2 linked regions of the Homo sapiens genome follow. The protein of the gene in region 1 interacts with the protein of each later gene in a biochemical or structural test. Each region holds a gene or a part of one and is shown in the gene's direction. Other genes may lie near its edges.

Region 1 (3,920 bases):
CAGAAGGTAGAAGCTAGACTAGGAAGAACAGGGATTTATTCCTTTTCAATCTTTCTAAGAAAATTCTAGAGAAAATAGAGGCAGTAACTAAGGACTGAAGCCTCTGAAACCAGGCTGTCTGGATAAAATCCACCCTTGAGGCCTTATTACCTGTGTGGTCTTGGGTTAGGTACTGAGCTGCTCCGTGTCTCGGTTTTCTCATCTGGAAGATAGAGTTGATAATAGTACTTATCTTTTAATTTAAGTGAGATGACTTTGAGTCTCTGTTGAAATAAGAAATCAAGTGGGACCCTAGGCTTATATTGTTTTCTCCTTCTGTAAAAGGAATAAGAGGAAAGAGCCAGTGACCTTCCTTTGAATGTCACCTGAACATTGATAGCACAATCTTACAAATATTTATCTTAGGATAATATGCTTAGGAATACAAACGTGAAGTATTATTACCAGGGCAAGAAATTATTGAGTAGGACAACCACTCAGAATTATAGGTACTTTTGAATGTTACTAAAGGAGTCATGGCAATAATTTCTAGTTCTTGGACTCTTACAAACCTTTTTTTTTTTTTTCTTTTCAAATTATGCTTCCAAGGACAGCTTTGGTGTTTTGTCTTGTCTTGTTTTGTTTTGTTTTGTTTTGTTTTGTTTTTGGAGACAGTGCATTGCTCTGTCACCCAGACTGGAGTGCAGTGCCGCAATCTCGACTCACTGCAACCTCCGCCTCCCAGGTTCAAGCAATTCTCCTGCCTCAGCTTCCCGAGTAGCTGGGACTACAGATGTGCACCACCGTGCGTGGCTAATTTTTTATATTTTTAAAAGAGGTGGGGTTTTGCCATATTGCCCAAGCTGGTCTCAAATTCCTGAGCTCAGGCAATCTGCCCACCTCTGCCTCCCAGAGTGCTAGGATTACAGGCATGAGCCACTGCGCCTGGCCAAGGACAGATTTGTATTAACAGGGAATAATCCTACAAGTTAAAATAATCCTACAAGCCTCTCTATTACACAGAAAAACAAAATAGTTATTTTTATGAGTGTTCTCCACTTAACACCTTATCTAATCAAATTCTTTGACCTAATTTTATATTAGGAGGCATCTCTCTCTCTTCTTTGAGACTCCTTTGTTAATTATGAAGATTGGCAGTTTTCAGACCTGGCTCTGGAATTCCATTACTTAGCATTAAAAGTTAAAAGCAGGCCTGAAGATTTCAGTTTTCCTGGCAGAAATGAGTGAGGGAGGAATAGGATTCTTCTGTGTAACAGTAAAATAAGGAGCACGTAGCATTGATCTACATCTCACAGAGCTAGTATGAAGATGAAGACAAGTGATTCCTGTAAAACACTAAGAACAATGCCTAAACCATTTTAAGGGCTTACAACATTAGCTGTTAATAATGTCAACTCATTATCAGATGTGAGTGCCCTCAGCATTCTTTCTCATTACTTTAAAATATTCACCCTTTCCCCACTTACCTCAAAGGAGGAAGAGATCGTGGCCTTTTCCCTCCTAAGATGAGCTGTTCCATGCCAGTTCTTGGCCCCATTTCTGCTTTCCTTCTCCATTATCTTGCTTTACCAGGTAGACTTTCTCTTCTGCCTTCACCCATGTCTATGCCTTCTAAACAATGTCTCCCATTTCATCTCTTTTCCCTTTCAGAGCTCCCCCTTCTTTCAGGGCCAGGCTTCTGTGAAGAATGTTCTATTGTCACTGCTTCTGCTTCCTCATCTCCACCTTCATCGTTTCATCTAGTCTCCCTCAGGTCTCCGTTGTCAAATCCACTGGTGTCTATTTAATGTTAATCCTACTTAACTTCCCTGGCATTTGACACTGTTGCCCACCCTTCCTTGCAACTCTCACCTTTCCTGCCTTGACTGTTGCTGTTTTCTCCTGCCCCTGCTTCTCTGAGTATTCTTTCTCAGTCTTCCCTGCCAGGTCCTGTACTCTGGCCCCCTTTCATCTTGTGTTCCCTAGAGTCCTGTCCTTAGCTCTCCTCTGCGTGTTCTTTTCTCTTGGACAGACCATCTACTTTATTTATTTATTTGAGACAGGGCCTCACTCTGTTGCCCAGGCTGGAGTGCAGTGGCACAATCTCAGCTCAGTGCAGCCTTGACCTCCTGGGCTCAAGTGATCCTCCCACCTCAGCCTCCTGAGTAACTGGACTACAGGCACACACCACCATGCCCAGCTAATTTTTGCATTGTTTTGTAGAGATGGGGTGTCACTATGTTGCCCAGACTGGTCTAGAACTTCTGGGCTCAAGCGATTCACCTGCCTCGGCCTTCCAAAGTTCTGGGATTATAGGAGTGAGCCAGTGCACCCAGCCACATCATCCACTTTAAATACAGCATATATGCTACTTAATCCCAAGTCCTTGTCTGTGTCTCCCAAGGTCCCGTGGGCATGTCCTAAACAGAACTCACTCTCCCTTGTACAGATCTTTTCCTCCCATCTGCTCCTCCACAATTTCCAGAGCACTTCATGCCATTGCTCTCATCTCTGTCTGTACAACTTACCTTTTGAAGACAGCTGAACTCCTTCTCCTTTGTAAACCTCTTCCATTCTCTCAGGGAGATAAGAAGCAATTTACTCAAACATAAATTAAATGGATGAGAAAGAACTGAAGTGCTGGGCTGAATGATTCTAATGGTTCTTTCTAGATCTTAAGAGTCTGGGTTCTCTTGTCTTTCACTGGGTTCGGCAATTATTGTCCTCATCAGTGACCACAGAGGAACTCCAGAGAAATGGAGAGAACAGAGAAGAAGGTAGTTACTAATCAATTTCCTTTTCTCTTTCAGTTCTATGCGTGTGAGATGGTGCTTGAGGAAGAGGGAATCTATGGAGGTGAGAGGAGATGAATGTGAGTGGAAAGGGAAAGAGAACATACAGAAGAAAAAACTGTTGTTGTTCTCCAACCCCCCCACCCCACCCCCACCACCAGCTCCTTCTTTTCCTGGTCTTATTCCTGTTAGTGTAGCAGGAGGAGAGGTTCCTGAGAATGGGAATGGGAATAGGACCACGAATTAGAACACTACTGGGGGCTGGGCGCAGTGGCTCATGCCTGTAATCCCAGCACTTTGGGAGGCCGAGGGGGTGGATCACCTGAGGTCAGGAGTTTGAGTCCAGCCTGGGCAACATGGTGAAACCCCATCTCTACTAAAAATACAATAATTAGCTGGGCGTGATGGCGCACGCTTGTAATCCCAGCTACTCGGGAGGCTGAGGCAGAAGAATTGCTTGAACCCGGGAGGCAGAGGTTGCAGTGAGCCGAGATCACGCCATTGCACTCCAGCCTGGGCAACAAGAGTGAGACTCAGAGAAAGGAAGGAAGGAAGAAAGAAAGAGAGAGAGAAAGAAAATAAAAGAAAAGAGAGAAAGAGAGAGAGGGAGGGAGGGAAAAGAAAGGATAAGAAAAGAACACTCCTGGGGTAGTATGAAAGGAACACCAGGGCTTAGAGTTGGAAATGACCAGCCACTCTTTTCTCACCTTCCAAGGCTCCCACAGGAAAAACTGGGCCTCCCCTCTGTGTATTCCTCCGCTATTCTCCACACAACCCAAACCTGATCACAGCCCTCCCTGCTGGAAATAGCAGCGGCTCAATATAAAGCCCAGAATCCCCAACATGCCTCCTATCCCTTGCACAGTCTGGCCCCTCCTGTCCCATTAGCCTCATCGTGTGCTGCTTCCTTCTCCTGACTCGCCACCCTCCAGCCAGAGAGACTTTACCCATGCTTTTCCAGGTACCCAGAACGTTCTCCACCCTATAGCTTTTTGCCTTCCCGAGTCTTACCCAAATTCTAAGCTTGATTTTCTCTTCTTGAGGGAAGTCTTTCCTATACCCCCAGTTGTGGTTACATCCCTTTAATATATGTGCTCACAGCTTGCTGTTTGACCTCTTTGGAGCACAACCGTGATTTAATAGTTTGTG
Region 2 (3,920 bases), on another chromosome or scaffold:
GGGCAACAGAGTGAGACTCTGTCTCACGAACCCAGAAATCTAAGCCAAACCCCCGCCTCCAAGATCCCAGACTGATTGAACTATTTCCTTTGATATTGATTATATACAGAAGAGAGAGGCACCTGGAAAACCTGAAAACTTAATCCAAATGATGTATTCTTTCTTTTTATATGCTCTTTTGGTTGGGCTTATGAATAAATTTTAAAAAATAAACATGTGAAAATTGGCCTGGTCAATTTGTAATTTGTTTTTCGGTTGTTTTCAGGTCCTGGTTGTTAGGAGTTTTGGGGTTTTGGCTTCTCACAAAGAAAATGTTGAAGGCTAAGAGGATAAGAAACCAGATATAGGTCAAGAAGGAAGATAGGTCAAGTTGATGATACACCCAATACACGTTTTGGCTGAGAATTCAATGGCCAGGTGTTAAGATTAAATTTTGGCAGATTTTCACAATCATGGAATGAACTCCTGGAATACAAGAATAAATCTGAAATTTTACCAAAAACTCAGTTGTATTATTAAAACTTCAGCAATTCATGTTAAAAAAAAAAAAAAAAAACTTGGCAGGAATAAGAATTTCCAGCCAAGCACGGTAGCTTATGCCTGTAATGCCAGCACTTGGGAGGCTGAGGTGGGAGGAACACTAGAGTCCAGGAGTTAGAGAACAGCCTGGGCAACATAGTGAGATCCCATCTCTAAAAAAAAATTTAAAAAATTAGCAAAGCATGGTGGCGCATGCCTGTAGTCCCAGCTACCTGGGAAGCTGAGGTAGGAGAATCGCTTAAGTCTGGGAGGTCATGTCTGGGTGAAAGAATGAGACCTTGTCTCAAAGAATTTCTCAGCACTGTCGATGGCAGGATTGCTTTTTTAGTTATTGTACAACACATTTGTGATATCCATACAGACATTCAGTTGGCACATTAAATATTGTTAACCTTTGAACAGCATAATTATATATATAATACTGAAAATGCTTTTCAGAAACATGGTTTTTTTTTTTCGAGACAGGCTGGAGTACAGTGGTGCGTGATCATATAGTTTACTGCAGACTCTCAATTCCTGGCTCAAGCCTTAGGCTCCCAAGTAGCTGGGACTACAGGTGCACACGACCACACCTGACTAATTTTTAAAAATCTTTTTGTAGAGACGGGGGTCTCACTTTGTTTGCCAGGCTGGTCTTGAACTCCTAGCCTCAAGCTATCCTCCCACCTTGGCCTCCCAAAGTTCTGGGATTACAGATGTGAACCACCTCACCTGGCTCAGTAACATGTTTTCTGAAAGGAACTTGTACTTAATATTCAAAGCATGAGAGAATCTGAAAAATCCATTTTCTTAATCAACTAAAAATGATTGGCAGCCTGTAGTAATCATTTGAAAAGCTGTTTGTTTATATTTTTAAATCTCTGTAAGTTCAAAACTATAAGGATTTTTCTTCTTACAGCATTCTTATAAAGTTTTTTGTTTTGATTTTCATTAGTGAGAATAAATGTGTTTTGGGTAACTCATTTTTATCTAAAACTTTATTTTCTTTATACTCATTATGTTCGAATTGAAGATGATTTATCATGCATGTTGTTGTATATAGATTTTGAGTTTTTCAACCTTGTAAACTTTGGAAGTGGCAAAGCTGATAGTACACTTTTAGTGTATGCCCACAGAATATGAAGGTTTCCCATGTAGAACTTTTCTTGAAAGACCTAAGGATGAAATGGAATTGAATAACAAAAAATTAACTATAGCTCTTAAAGGTTACTTTCTTTAATATTAGGAATGATTGTATACCAACTATTTTATATGAACTATTTTACGAAGATTGGATTATGATATGTAATTTCTGTTATTCTGTCTTATGTTATTTACATTTTTACATTTACATTTTTATATACATTTACATTTTTGTATACATCTGTTGGCTCAATCTGAGAATATTTATGAACAGTGAGTCAGAATGACATGCCCTATTTATATTACTGATGTTAATTGTTAGATATTTACATGATCATACTACCATTGATCATGTACATGGTCAAGGATGCCAAAAATAACACTGAAATAGGTATTTAGCTCTTGGACTTTTCAAAATCTAAAGCTGAAGCAAAATATTCATTTTTGGTTAAATACTGAGGCTAAAGTGAAACTTAAAGGTAAAGCTTGGTACTCTATCTACTCAGTGCTTCATTATAGGTCAGCACTGGCCAATAGAACTTTCTACAATGATAGAAATATTCCATATTTGGGCCGGGCGTGGTGGCTCACGCCTGTAATCCCAGCACACTGGGAGACCAAGTTGGGCAGGTCACCTGAGGTCTGGAGTTCGAGACCAGCCTGGCCATCATAGTGAAACCCTGCCTCTACTAAAAGTACAAAAATTAGCCAGGCATGGTGGTGGGCACCTGTAATCCCAGCTACTTGGGAGGCTGAGGCAGGAGAATCGCTTGAACCTGGGAGGCAGAGGTTGCAATGAGCTGAGATTGTGCCATTGCACTCCAGCCTGGGCAACAAGAGTGAGACTTCGTCTCAAAAAAAAAAAAAAAAAAATTTTCCATATTTGTGTTGTCCAATATAGTAGCTCCTAGTCACATGTAGCTGTTGAGTTCTTTAAAAGTGGTTAGTGTTAACTAAGGAGGTGAATTTTTACATTAATTAATTTAAATTTAAAGAAACAGTTGTAGCTAGTGGCTATTGTATCGTACAGTGCAGTTATAGATAAACCTACTAATGATACTTAGTCACTCTTTGCCTATCCCCCCACCCGCCTCCAATAACCATCTATACCCAGAAATGAAGAATTTGTTTTTTTAAAGCATGGGAAGTTCAGTTAATCAGCTATCTCCCTCATCTAAGGAGACAAAATACCTCAAAGCCTTTTTCTGCTTTTTGTAGCTATCTCATTATCGAGAGCATTTGAACATTCAGGACCCTGACAAACGAAAAGAATTTCTTAAAACCTGTGTTGGGTAAGTATGGGGGAAAAATGATTTTAAGTATAAATACCTTTACCCAGAAGGAATGAAGAAAATTAAAAAGGGTGGAATGGATAGGCAGGAAGGGGAGGGCTAACAATGAATCATACCAGCATCATTCAGGGTCACCTCATGCAGTGGTGTTCACACACTAGTCCCCAGCAGAGTTTCCACTGCTTGATGGTAAACTGAGGAAAAAAAAAGACAAATGTAGAGAGATTTTTTTTCCTAAAGCTAAATTTATTTAATTTGAAAGGTTATCTTTTATTGTAGGATTTTGTCCTCACTCTTCTCTTCTTCTTTGGTACTAAAATGAGCTGTACCTTTTTTTATGACCTTAGGTAATAAAAAGATAGCAATACTTTAGGGACCTGATGCATTTTTTCAGTGTTACTGGTCCTTGAAACCCCAAAGTCCAAGAACCACTGATCCAGGGCAAGCTTTCATCCAGAATTTAACTTATTGCAAAACCCAGCTCCACATATTCCTGTGACAGGATGCCCGTTGCTCTTGAAACAGCTCAGTTTGTTTTTGAACAACCTTCGTTATTGGAAAGTGCTTCCTTACGTTAAGCTGAAATTTGCTTCCCTGTATCTTTCAAGACAGGTGTAGAGTCTACCCAGTAGTCCTTGCTTCTTCAGGTTCAGTACTCATGGTTGTTTCAACCATTCCTCATGTGACATGATTTCCCGGCTTCATGTTTAGAAATTTGATTATATCAGTGAAATCCATTTAATGTTACCAAATACTGAGATATGTTATATGGCCTCTGGAAAACAAGGAGAAAAGTTAAAATAGTGAAGTAACTAGAATTTATAGCATCTCTCTTTATCTCTTCTAAAAATTCACTATGGCTAAAACTTATCTGGAATAGTGTAATTAAAACTCAGAATTCTTCCTGGAGTGAGCAGAGTATGGGGAATAATGCAGCACTTTCTAAAAGATATATCTGTGAACTGG

What was found.
Region 2: the proteins of VPS33B (region 1) and VIPAS39 form a complex in vitro, tested with the Homo sapiens proteins (one study listed by BioGRID).

Annotation. Positions count from the first base shown.
Region 1 is NC_000015.10:91,008,716-91,012,635, reverse strand, and holds part of VPS33B (vacuolar protein sorting-associated protein 33B), read left to right. Parts: exon of another isoform or gene 1-202; intron 203-1,466; exon of another isoform or gene 1,467-2,082; intron 2,083-2,789; coding exon 2,790-2,835; exon of another isoform or gene 2,836-2,845; coding exon of another isoform or gene 2,846-2,851; intron 2,852-3,659; coding exon of another isoform or gene 3,660-3,732; intron 3,733-3,920. UniProt on the Homo sapiens protein: May play a role in vesicle-mediated protein trafficking to lysosomal compartments and in membrane docking/fusion reactions of late endosomes/lysosomes.
Region 2 is NC_000014.9:77,436,842-77,440,761, reverse strand, and holds part of VIPAS39 (spermatogenesis-defective protein 39 homolog), read left to right. Parts: intron 1-2,880; coding exon 2,881-2,954; intron 2,955-3,920.